3 separate regions of the Homo sapiens genome follow, and regions 2 and 3 are each reported to be linked to region 1. The links are microRNA targets in miRTarBase. Many come from high-throughput screens and were not tested one by one. Region 1 holds a microRNA gene; each other region holds the end of a gene's coding sequence.
Evidence for each region. The annotated mature microRNA hsa-miR-6859-3p reads UGACCCCCAUGUCGCCUCUGUAG and lies in region 1 at 1,207-1,229, shown strand. An mRNA with a match to its seed (bases 2 to 7 or 8) in the 3' UTR can be bound and repressed. Matches are read on the target gene's strand: a 7mer-m8 pairs with bases 2 to 8, a 7mer-A1 pairs with bases 2 to 7 and ends in A, and an 8mer does both.

Region 1 (4,118 bases):
GAGTGCAGGGAACTCAGCACCGTCAACTCCTCGACCCTGCAGGTCAGATTATCCTTGTAGAGGCCCCCTGGATGGCACCAAGATCGGCCCTGGCAAGTAGGTGACCCTGACTTCAGAGCCCTTGCCTGAGGGCCTGGCCTGGCAGCTCTGCTGTTAGAAGCAGGAGGTGTGCAGAGGGTGGGGAGCAGCCCAGCCTCTGTGATCTTCTCCATGGCAGGATCTCCCAGCAGGTAGAGCAGAGCCGGAGCCAGGTGCAGGCCATTGGAGAGAAGGTCTCCTTGGCCCAGGCCAAGATTGAGAAGATCAAGGGCAGCAAGAAGGCCATCAAGGTAGTCCCCATACCCCTGTGTCCTGAGGCTACTGGGCAGTCCCTCCATTTCCCCGTGCCTCTGAGGCTGCCCAGTCTCTGCCCTGCTGCCCACCTGTACCTTGAGCTTTCTTCTCGCCCAGGCTTCCAACTCCACCCTCTCCTGCCAAGCAATCCTAGCCCTCTGAGCCTCTTGGGGCCCCCTCAGACTTGTCCCTGTGTCCACAGGTGTTCTCCAGTGCCAAGTACCCTGCTCCAGGGCGCCTGCAGGAATATGGCTCCATCTTCACGGGCGCCCAGGACCCTGGCCTGCAGAGACGCCCCCGCACAGGATCCAGAGCAAGCACCGCCCCCTGGACGAGCGGGCCCTGCAGGTCTGCTGGCCGCGCATATAGCCTGTCACACACCAGGAGGACTGGATACTGGGGAGGAGCCGGGGCCACCATAGGGTTCTGTCCCCCAGAGGAGGCTGACTGGGATGGGATGGCAGCTGATTAGGCCCAGCACCAAATATTCACCATCCCTTGGCCATCCTGGCCCTCCCAGGAGAAGCTGAAGGACTTTCCTGTGTGCGTGAGCACCAAGCCGGAGCCCGAGGACGATGCAGAAGAGGGACTTGGGGGTCTTCCCAGCAACATCAGCTCTGTCAGCTCCTTGCTGCTCTTCAACACCACCGAGAACCTGTATGGCCAGAGGGCAGGGCCGAGGGGTGTGGGCGGGAGGCCCGGCCTGGCTTAGTGGGGACCCAGGTCATCAGACACAGGTACAGCACATAGGCCAGGAGCCAGGGGGTGACTGGGGTGGCTCGGCTCGGGAGGCCTGGGACCCCACAGTGCACGCTGTGCCCCTGATGATGTGGGAGAGGAACATGGGCTCAGGACAGCGGGTGTCAGCTTGCCTGACCCCCATGTCGCCTCTGTAGGTAGAAGAAGTATGTCTTCCTGGACCCCCTGGCTGGTGCTGTAACAAAGACCCATGTGATGCTGGGGGCAGAGACAGAGGAGAAGCTGTTTGATGCCCCCTTGTCCATCAGCAAGAGAGAGCAGCTGGAACAGCAGGTGGGAGGGGTGGGACAGAGGTGGAGACAGGTGCAGTGGCCCAGGGCCTTGCCAGAGCTCCTCTCCAGTCAAGGCTGTTGGGCCCCTTATTCCACCCATGGGAGGTGCACACAAGGTCTTGTTGGCTGCCCCTGCAGGTCCCTGTCACCTCTCACATGTCCCTGCCTAATCTTGCAGGTCCCAGAGAACTACTTCTATGTGCCAGACCTGGGCCAGGTGCCTGAGATTGATGTTCCATCCTACCTGCCTGACCTGTCCGGCATTGCCAACGACCTCATGTACATTGCCGACCTGGGCCCCGGCATTGCCCCCTCTGCCCCTGGCACCATTCCAGAACTGCCCACCTTCCACACTGAGGTAGCCGAGCCTCTCAAGGTAGGTGAGCTGGGTTCTGGGATGGGAGCTGGGCCGGGGACCTCCCTGGTCACACACCTTCTTCCCTAGACACCCCATACTTTGTGTTTCAGACCTACAAGATGGGGTACTAACACCACCCCCACCGCCCCCACCACCACCCCCAGCTCCTGAGGTGCTGGCCAGTGCACCCCCACTCCCACCCTCAACCGCGGCCCCTGTAGGCCAAGGCGCCAGGCAGGACGACAGCAGCAGCAGCGCGTCTCCTTCAGGTGGGAGCAGCTCTTTGAGGCCACCTGATTTCTGGTGTGCTCAGTGCACTCGGGTGGATTTTCTGTGGGTTTATTAAGTGGTCAGAAATTCTCAATTTTTTGAATAGTTCCCATTTCAAATATCTTGTTCTACTTGGTTCATAAAATAGTGGTTTTCAAACTGTAGAGCTCTGGACTTCTCACTTCTAGGGCAGAGGGAGCCTGAACAAGTGAGGCTCTGGGTTCCCCGTTCCTAATTAAACCAATGGAAAGAAGGGGTCTAATAACAAACTACAGCAACACATTTTTCATTTTAGCTTCACTGCTGTATCTCCCAGTGTAACCCTAGCATCCAGAAGTGGCACAAAACCCCTCTGCTGGCTCATGTGTGCAACTGAGACTGTCAGAGCATGGCTAGCTCTGGGGTCCAGCTCTGCAGGGTGGGGGCTAGAGAGGAAGCAGGGAGTATCTGCACACAGGATGCCCGCGCTCAGGTGGTTGCAGAAGTCAGTGCCCAGGCCCCCCCACACAGTCTCCAAAGGTCCGGCCTCCCCAGCGCGGGGCTCCTCGTTTGAGGGGAGGTGACTTCCCTCCCAGCAGGCTCTTGGACACAGTAAGCTTCCCCAGCCCTGCCTGAGCAGCCTTTCCTCCTTGCCCTGTTCCCCACCTCCTGGCTCCAGTCCAGGGAGCTCCCAGGGAAGTGGTCGACCCCTCCGGTGGCCGGGCCACTCTGCTAGAGTCCATCCGCCAAGCTGGGGGCATCGGCAAGGCCAAGCTGCGCAGCATGAAGGAGCGAAAGCTGGAGAAGAAGAAGCAGAAGGAGCAGGAGCAAGGTGAGCGGGCCCTGGAGCTTGCAGTCGGAGGGCCTTGGGCAAGATCGCCTCCTCCCCTCCAGCCCTGAGTCCACCGGGTGCTTTCTGCCCACCCCCTGCTCTTGCCAACTGGCCCCTGCTTCCCCTAGGGCACATGCTGGAAGCCCTGGGCCGCCACCAGAGGTCCTCAGCCCTCCTGCCTGGGCTATGGCTCCTTCCTGGTTTGGGAGCCATAGTGGAGCTTTCCTCTCTAAGCTCACCCAGCTCAAACTGACAGGAGAATCTTCTTCGACTGCCAAGAGCGGTCCAAGGCAATGGTCAGCCACTGCAGCCTCCTGAGATATTTTTAGAGACTGGACCTGAGGCCTCTGGAGGCTACTGATGATGCCTGCTGTGAACGCAGACACTGGTGTGATGCGATGCCTGCGCCTGCAGCGGCAGTGCCCTGGGCACTATGGTTTTGAGCTTGTACCCAGCGCTGCTTTTGCCTTGCTCTGTGACCCCAGGCAAGCTGCCTCACCTCTCTGGGCCAGTTTCCCCATCGTACAGTGGTGCTGCACACCCTGGCCCTGGCCCCGAGGTGGCTGGGAGGTGGCTCCTCAAACCGCCGCTGTCTCATCAGTGCCTGGTGCTGGGTCAGGGATCGACTGAGGCTCTGAGCTAACTGGGAAACACAGTGGCCTTGGAGGGCTGGGGAGTGTCATGGGGGTGGGGACAGGGAGTCACCGGTCGCATGTGACTGAACTCTTCACCCCAGTCTGTGGCTTTCCCGTTGCAGTGAGAGCCACGAGCCAAGGTGGGCACTTGATGTCGGATCTCTTCAACAAGCTGGTCATGAGGCGCAAGGGTAGGAGGCAGGGCCGCTGCCCGCCCTGGGCCAGCACCTTGTAATTCTGTCCTGCCTTTTTCTTCCTGTATTTAAGTCTCCGGGGGCTGGGGGAACCAGGGTTTCCCACCAACCACCCTCACTCAGCCTTTTCCCTCCAGGCATCTCTGGGAAAGGACCTGGGGCTGGTGAGGGGCCCGGAGGAGCCTTTGCCCGCGTGTCAGACTCCATCCCTCCTCTGCCGCCACCGCAGCAGCCACAGGCAGAGGAGGACGAGGACGACTGGGAATCCTAGGGGGCTCCATGACACCTTCCCCCCCAGACCCAGACTTGGGCCGTTGCTCTGACATGGACACAGCCAGGACAAGCTGCTCAGACCTACTTCCTTGGGAGGGGGTGACGGAACCAGCACTGTGTGGAGACCAGCTTCAAGGAGCGGAAGGCTGGCTTGAGGCCACACAGCTGGGGCGGGGACTTTTGTCTGCCTGTGCTCCATGGGGGGACGGCTCC
Region 2 (4,118 bases), not on the chromosome of region 1:
GGTGAGGGCAGTGAGCATTCATGCTGATCATGCCGTGAAAAGGTCATTCCTTCCTTTCACGTTTGACGCCTGTGGTGTGCCAGGCCCTGGACTAGGTGCTAGGCTGGATGTTAAAACTCACAGAGCACAGTCTCTGTTCTGAAGGTGCTTCCAATCCAGAGCTGCAGAACAGTGGCCCCAGTTAGCCAGAGGCAGTGGAATGGGGTTCCCGTGCTGGTTTCACCTGAGCTGGGGTCCAGAGCTGGCCCCAACTGTCTGTTAGGGTTTCAGCAGGCACCGTTGATTGACAGCGTTGCTTTGCAGGGTGGGGAATGGGGTGGAGACTTGGACATTTTGTTCCATAGATGTCTGTGTTGTTTAATCTTGAAATCAAGTGTGGGTTTAATATTTGCTTACGTATATAACTTGTTTTTTGATTGAGAAATAAATTCCTTTATTTAAGTCTCTTTTTGGCCTTCATATAGTCAGTGACCTGTGTCAGTGCTCCTTGTGAAGCCCCGGGGACACGCCCATGCTTGAACACGCCCGTGGCTGCTCATCGTGGGGGAGCGTCCACACCCTGGGGCGTCGTGTTAAGAGGGTGCTGGAAAGGACTTCTTACAGGATTTGGCTTGAGTAATCTGGGGGAGGGTTTAGGGAAGCGGGACTCTGCTCTGGATTGGTGCTGTCAGGAAGCAGGCGTCATTCTGCAACTGGGAATCTCAATGCATCGTATTTGGAAGGAGGACAGACTAGAGCCAGGCTAGAGCTGTCAGCTGTGAAGAGGCAGCAGCCACTCAGACTGGCTGGGACAGGGCACTGCTTGCCCTTTTTACAGCTTGGACAGTGCCCATGTTTTGTCTGTGTTCAGAGTGATAACAGAGGGGTCTTGTTTTTGTATTGATCCATCATGGTCAGAGTAGTCTGATGTTGATGTTCTATGCAATTTTAACCAGGAGACACTGAGGGCTCTATCTGTGAGTGCCAGGACAGCTCCTAGCAACACCAAGGCCTCTATCTGTGAGTGCCAGGACAGCTCCTAGCAACACTGAGGCCTACAAGATAGGACCAGATCAGCTCCCAGATGTCAGCGACTGGTCTTCTTTCTACCTGAAGAATCAGTGTGGTGGCCTCACAATTGCTACAGGTGCGTTCAGCCTCATGACTCCATGTGAGCACCCCGTGCCGATTCATCTGCCTGGCCACATCACCACGTACTCGGACTCATTTCACTCCCTGGCTGGGACACAGCAGATAGCAGACCTCTCAGTTGTCAGACACATCCCACTGGCCTTCGGCTGTGCCCAGCCTGGCTTAATTGGCACCTCCCGATGCTTCTGGAGGCGTCTGTGCTCCCAGCTCCTCTCTGGCATGTCTCAATGGCTTCCTTGTGGCCCACTTCACCTGTTCACAGCCCCATGACTTCCCCTGCACCGTCTATTGCCAGACTCATCTTCCTAAACACAAACCCAGCTGTGGCCCCTGCCTGAGTGCCCTTCACCTGCAGGATAGGCCCAAGCCCTCCTGTGTTCAGCCCTGGCCTTCTCTCTGGCAGTGGGGGTCTTTGCTGTGGACCCTCCACCCCCTGGCCCTGTCCCACACCTCTGGAGCTTGCCGTTCCCAGGGAGCCTCACTAAAGCCTCTCCCTCTCAGCCAAGAGTTTGTGTCCGTCTCAAACTCCTCAAGAAAACAATGTCCTGGCACATTTCACTTGGCAGTTACTCCCGAGACCACCCCTGCCCCCGCCCTGACGTTCTCGTTAGCCACATAAACACTTTATTCTCCTCTTTCGTATAAAATCCTGAGGGGTCTGGGAGCTAGAGCTAGGCAGGTTCTTTCTCCTCCTCAGCATGCTGGAGCACAGGCGGGCACCCAGAGGAGGAACTGCACCTGCTCAGGAAATAGCCGGAAGGGGAGGTGGGGGAAGGGGGAGCCGTGTGGCCCACTCGCTGCTCAGCATGTGATTAGCCGCTGCAGAGGGCAAGGTGGACTCCAGGAGGTGCCCTCGTGGCTGGGAAGGCAGTGTGTGTCCCCACACTGGCAGAGGGACTGTCTGTGAACAATGACAGCACTGCAGCAGGGAGCCCACTCGTGACTCAGGTTGTGCAGGGTCAGGGCCCCCGGCTGAGAGGCAAAAGGACAACAGGAGGGCAGCTGGAGCCACCAGTGGGCAGATGGCAGGGCCCGCGTACCAGGCTAAGGAGCGTGGACTTCATCCTGAGGGCACCACCGAGGGTTTTAGGCAGGCGGGTAGTGCAACGGATGTGATTGATGTTTCAGAAACACACCGCTAGGGTCCTGGTGGAGGGCGGGGCAGGCGAGGAGGCCAGGTGAGGCAGGGGAGGTTGGGAGGGAGAGGGAAGCGGGGCAGCCCCTGCTCTGGCCTGGAGATAATGCAGGAGCAGGTTTCAGGAAGGATGAGCTTGGCTCTGGGCACCCCACAACTGCGGTGCCCGCGGACATCAGGGTGGTGCTGGCTTCGTACACAGAGGTGCTAAGGGGACTGACTGGGCAGTGGGGAGGGGCCTTGAGAGATCCTCAGGCCACGCTGCATGCAGAGCCTCGAGGCTGCAGTGGGAATATCCAAGTCCAAAGCTGCCTCTGGGCCTAGAGCCGCGGGGTGTGAGAGCTCAGCAGGGCTCAGACCAGCCAGGTCCCAGGCAATGGAGGGACCCCCTGCAGGAGCAGCAGGCGTCACAGGGCAGGAAACGCACTGCAGGCTGGGGCTGAGGGCTCCAAAGGACCGGGCCTGGGCAGGCCAAGGGGCCCAAATGGCTGAGCCCTCAGTCTCTGTCCAGCTCTTGGACGGGATCTCCAGCCTGTGTTTCTCATGGGGAGGCTGGAGAGAGGCAGGCCTGGGTGGAATATCAGGGTGCCCACACAGATGGACTGCACAGAGCTGGGGAGGCCCAAGGAGCGCCCAAGGAGCATGGCAGGCTGCCCTGGGGCAGGCCAATGACCTGTGCCGCTGGCCCAGGCGACAGAAGAGTGAGGCGGCTATACCGTGCCATCTCCACGGAGCACCTGGTAGACACAGCCAGGCCACTTACCATTGGGGTACCCCAGCACAGGCTTAACTCACTCTGGGCACCCCAGGGTCTCTGTCCATCAGTTGGGAACCCAACACACACCTTATGATGTAGCTGTGTGTGGGCAGAGGCTTGGCACTGTATTAATCTCCACTATTCATTTCTGGTCCTGTGTCTCCATCAGCAGGGAGGGCCTGGAGCCCCTCCCAACTTCATGTTGAAAGTGGCAGGGAGAAGAGTGACCAGGGGAAGGCAGAGAGCAAATCCCATTTATTGGAATTTCACTGACAACAAATTGAGAGGAAGGCTTCCCCCTCCCCTGAAACATGCCATCCTCTCTGCCCTCAGGGCTCAGCACAGGGATAAGACCCCCACTCCGCATGTCCCCAGAGGGCAGCACTCCAGGGGGGTGGGGGGGAGGGGAGGGGTGCTCTACGCCAGGCTGGGGAGCTGGGACAGGAGGGAAGACGTGCACCCTCACCTCTTGGCTCAATCCCTCTCCCCGGGACCTGGTGCTGCCCCCAGTCCCTGGGGTGGGCTGGCAGACAGGGCTCATGCAACAATGAGTAGACAGGAGGTGGCACGGAAACGTGGCCTTGGTGCCCCTTGGCGGGGGCGGGAGGACTAAAGGGGCCATGCTGTGGCCACAGCGGGTCCAAATGGAAGTATCTGCAGTGTACATACAGGAGGGTTGGAGAGAGGCATCCTTTTCCCTAGGCTGTGCCTGGGGACAAGAGAGAGGGGAAGTACAGCTGGCACTGCCGTGCCAGGGGCAGGGTCCAGGCCAGCCGTGCCACCTGAGCGGGCACAGCGAGCTGGAGCTCGGCTACTCCTTGGCGCGGCCAATGATGGTGAGGATGTACAGGAAGATGTTGATGATGTCTGTGTACAGGTTCAGCGCAGCAAACACATACTCTTCTGGGCTCAGGGACAGCTGCTTGTTCCCCAGTAGCAGCTGGGTGTCCACTGCGAGGAACTGGAGGTGACAGCACAGTGGTGTTGAGGGACAAGCCTGCCTGCCCAGCATCCCGCCCCCGGCCAAGGTCACCCCTCACTCACGCAGGTGAAGAGCAGAGCGCCCAGTGAGGCGTACACGATCTCCAGGATGCG
Region 3 (4,118 bases), not on the chromosome of region 1:
TCTGCTTGGGATGCACCTCCCCCACCCTTTCTGCTGGCATACCTTGTCCATGGCTCAGTTCGGTCACCATCTCCTTCCTCCCCAGATCCCTCCAGGACCTGGTGTGAAGTCCCTGTGTGCCTCCCCATCATTCCCGGGCTGCAGTCACCCCTTTTCCTGTCTGTCTCTCTCACTACTCAAGGGAGGGAATGGTGGCTTCTTTGTCATAGTCAGAGTCCTGCACAGTGCCTGGCACATAGTAGGCCAGAAAGAGAAGGTCAAAGTCTCAGTGACTCAATTCTTCGGGTCTCATGTGGAATGCAGGGCAGGGGCAGAGCTGTTGTGGGGGTTGTGGGTGCGGCCTCCCACCCCCCAGCTGCACCCATGGGCCCATCCGTGCTGCCCGTAGGAGGTGAGAGAGAGGCCTGATGCCTGGCACTGTCACATAGGTCACTCAGGATGCAAGAAGAAGGCCTGAAGGACTCGCTGGTGAAGGTGGCCCCCAAGAGGCCGCCCAAGAGATTCGGCTGTTGCTCCTGATCACCTGTCCTGTCCTGGGTAGGATGGACACCCATGGGGTTTCCTGTCCCTCAGCTCCTGTCCTTTGTTCCTGGACAGCAACGACACAGAGGACCAGCTTGGAGGTTCAGGAAAACCCTTCTCAACTCAGGACTCGGATCCCAGAGCAGGGCCGCATCACCTCTGCCTTTCACACTCCAAAGGAGGGCTTTGCTGAGTGAACAAGGCTTGAGGGGCAGGGGTATGGCAAAACTCTCCAAACAAAGAAAGTCTAGAAAAACGACTTAAGGAAAATACACCAAAATATTGGCCGCACATCTGTGGGTGTAAAATTTTAGGGAGAATGTGGGGGGGGGGTGTTACTTTCCATTTTACACATATTTGTATTTTCAGATTTTCAACAATAACAGTATTCAATACATAATCAGAAAAAAGAGATGTGGAGGAGGAGGAGAGAAACTTCCCAAGGAGCTCCCTTGGGTGCTGCTGGCTCCTAATTAGTGTAACCTGTTAATCACATGTTGCTCGGTGTTAGAGCGGTCCCTCTGTGCTCTGCTTGGCAGGGCGCTGTTGGCCTGGTCTCCCTCGCTATTTCTATTTGCAAGCATGGGCTTTCTTCCCAGCAGAATCTGGTTCCTGGGAAGAGTAATGTTCCAAAGGCCTCTGATATGCCTCGATGCCCTCCTGTCTTCCAGAGCCCCAACCTCACTCCCTTTCCCCACCATACAAAACACACCTCCCAGGGGTCACATTTGGGGGTCCCGCCCCCTGCTCCAATGCCATGGTGTCCCCAAGCACAGGGCTTTGGCCTGAGTTGTCAGTCTCTGGATGCATTTGAGGGGCAGCTAGGGTGTGGCTGGGGGGTCCAAGCAGCTGGGGAGCCGAGACTCAGAATCATTCACACACTTCTATTTGGAGCTTTTGTGGAAGTTTCCAGAATTCCATAATATTCACCTCCTGAATGGTGGCTGCCCCTTATCAGCTAGGGCTGGGGTTTCCAGTGCCCTCGGAGAGCTTGCTTTAGAGTCTTGGAGAGACGGCCATGGTCTTCGTTTGTATGTCTGTCACATCTTACCATCATCACAAATTGAATATACAACATGTGCCAGGCACTGAATTTGTTTGTTTGTTTTTTGAGACAGGATCTCTCTCTGTTGCGCAGGCTGGAGTACATTGGCATGATCGCCACTCACAACAGCCTCAACTGTCTGGGCTCAAGTGATTCCCCCACCTCAGCCTCCCAAGTAGCTGGGACCATGGGCACATGCCACCACATCCGGCTAATTTTTTAGCTATTTGCAAACACAAGGTCTTGCAATGTTGCTTAGGCTGGTCTCAAACTCCTGGGCTCAAGTGATCCTCCCAATGTGCTGGGATGACAGGCGTGAGCCACCGCCCCCAGCCTGGGTTTGGTATTTTGTAATCCTTCAGGTACTGGGGAATTTCCTGGCTGAATCAATGGAAACCCCAGTTTCATAGGGGGACAAGCAAAGACAGTTCAAGGAACAGAGTTACAGAGAGAGAGAACGAAGGAGAAAGAGGGAGCAACAGAGGGCTGTTGCATCACACAGTCTTAGGCCCTGGCCCCAACCCCTCTTCTCAGTTCTGAAAGGAACGTCTCAGCAGCAGTGAGCCTTCCATCACCAGAGGCGCACAAGAAGACAGGTAATGCTTGGCAAAGGTGAGGTAGAGAAGATCCCAGCATCTGAAGCTGCCAAAGTTGGATTAGATTCCCTTAATGGACCCCATTCAACCTCCAGACTCCATGTGGATGATTCCCATGGTCCAGCTGATTCTTTGTGTGTTTTTGTTTTGTTTTGTTTTGTTTTGTTTTTTTGAGACGGAGTCTCACTCAGTCGCTAGGCTGGAGCACAGGGGCGCAATCTCGGCTCACTGCAACCTCCACCTCCCGGGTTCACGCCATTCTCCTGCCTCAGCCTCCCAAGTAGCTGGGCCTACAGGCGCCCGCCACCTCACCCAGCTAATTTTTTGTATTTTTAGTAGAGACGGGGTTTCACCATGTTGGTCAGGATGGTCTCGATCTCTTGACCTCATAATCCACCCGCCTCGGCCTCCCAGAGTGCTGGGATTACAGGCATGAGCCACCGCGCCCGGCCCTCCAGCTGATTCTTTTACTGGGCCCTTCACTGATCCTTTTTACCCCAATGTCTTCTCCCATCTCAGGTCCCCTCCCGCAGCCCACAAGCCTGCCCCTGAACTGAGCAGTTTCTCAGTGTGCTCAGAGAGAGAGAGAGAGAGAGAGAGAGAGAGAGAGAGAGAGAGAGAGAGAGAGAGAGAGAGAGGGGTGTGGGCTGCAGTGAGTGATGCTGGCCCTGGATAAGGATGGGAAACAGGTCCTATAGTTGCTAATGGCTCTTTCTCTGGGGCCCAGGGACCTGGCAGGCACCAACATCTCTGTCCTGTAGGCCAGGGAATTAATGAGGCAGGTAGGCAGGGTGTGATTCCTGGGAGAGGCAGTAGAGCAGACAGCCCCTGTCGTTTGGGGGCCCGGTACGGGAGTGGCCCCCAGGCCTCCCCGTCTCAGCTCAGCTCTGTTGTGGCCTCAGGCAACTCAGGTTCGCAGGAGGTGGAGTTCTGGGAGGAACTCCACACTGCCCAGCACCCTCTTTTGGCTTTCTTGGGCCGGATCCACCTGCTGGGCAGGGCACAGCTGTGCAAGGACCACCAGCCTTTCCTGCTGTCAAAGGGCTCACAAGCCAGGGAACAGGACCCAGGAACCTCAGAGCAGCACAAAGTAGGCAACGACAGCAGCAGGAGAAACTTGAGGTAGACTTCAGAGTGAACTTCCAGGCAAGTGGTGAGTTCTTGGGGCATGTCAGCCAAGGAGGCTCTGATTTAGGCTTAGCCAGAGTCTGATTAAGAAAAGGAGGGTGGGACTGGGCTGATGGGACTCAGGCTGTGGAGTGAGAAGGGAGGGCATGGGGAGAGAAGGAAGGCTGGGCAGGAGCTCTAAGAGAAGAGGGCTTTTGGGAGCTGAGGGTGAGCAGGGGCAGAATGACATCCCTCCTTTACCCAGTGCCTACCGTATGCCAGGCACTGTTCTGAGCACCTAGCTCGTGTTAATTCATTTAGCCCTCACACCATCAGGCGTGCTCCCCCATCTTACGGAAAAGGAAAGTACTGCATAGGGAGGCTGAGTAACTTCCCCGTAGTCACGTAGCAAGTAAGTGCTGGAGCCAGTGTTAAACGCAAACGCCGATACCCATAGACTTAACTCTGAAGTTATGCAACTGCTTACAGGAAGATGCGGATGCTTCGGGGAAGGAGGGGCCAGGTCCCTGAAGCCTCGTATTGCTCCCTGCCAATTCCTCTCCAGTAATAGTCCATGTCATTGGTGGGTGTGGACCAGGAAAAAGAGACGAAAAGGCAGTGATAAATGCCAGGAAAGTGGCTGGATGACAGCCTTCATCCAGGACAGGTCCTTCATTTCCCCTCCTCCTGCCGTCTCTGAAGCTGGTGGGACCCGGGAAGGTGGCCGACATCAGAATTCACAGAGGCCCCCTCTCCAGTCTCCCCTCAGCTGCCCTCAGGCACGTTGCTGCCCTGGGGCCCCAGAGACGAAGCCAAGTTCCCCAGGCTGGGGCTCTGCAGGAGGGACT

Region 2: the mRNA of GRINA is a reported target of hsa-miR-6859-3p. Seed matches in the 3' UTR shown: 7mer-m8 at 3,375-3,381.
Region 3: miRTarBase lists RAB44 as a target of hsa-miR-6859-3p. Seed matches in the 3' UTR shown: 7mer-A1 at 1,241-1,247, 7mer-m8 at 1,253-1,259 and 7mer-m8 at 1,358-1,364.

Annotation. Positions count from the first base shown.
Region 1 is chr1:185,002-189,119 of GRCh38, reverse strand. It overlaps MIR6859-2 (microRNA 6859-2), which reads left to right and starts at 1,162; the gene lies at 1,162-1,229. It also overlaps the pseudogene WASH9P.
Region 2 is chr8:143,992,558-143,996,675 of GRCh38, reverse strand. It overlaps GRINA (glutamate ionotropic receptor NMDA type subunit associated protein 1), which reads right to left. Exons shown (of 7, transcript NM_001009184.2): 6 at 4,068-4,118; 7 at 3,261-3,984. The coding sequence ends at 3,835. It also overlaps a transcript of PARP10 not described here. Among named protein-coding and RNA genes, the nearest start is that of GRINA, 4.6 kb to the right of the region's middle.
Region 3 is chr6:36,731,575-36,735,692 of GRCh38, forward strand. It overlaps RAB44 (RAB44, member RAS oncogene family), which reads left to right. Exons shown (of 14, transcript NM_001257357.2): 14 at 429-1,610. The coding sequence ends at 519. Among named protein-coding and RNA genes, the nearest start is that of RAB44, 36 kb to the left of the region's middle. RefSeq lists an enhancer at 3,686-4,118.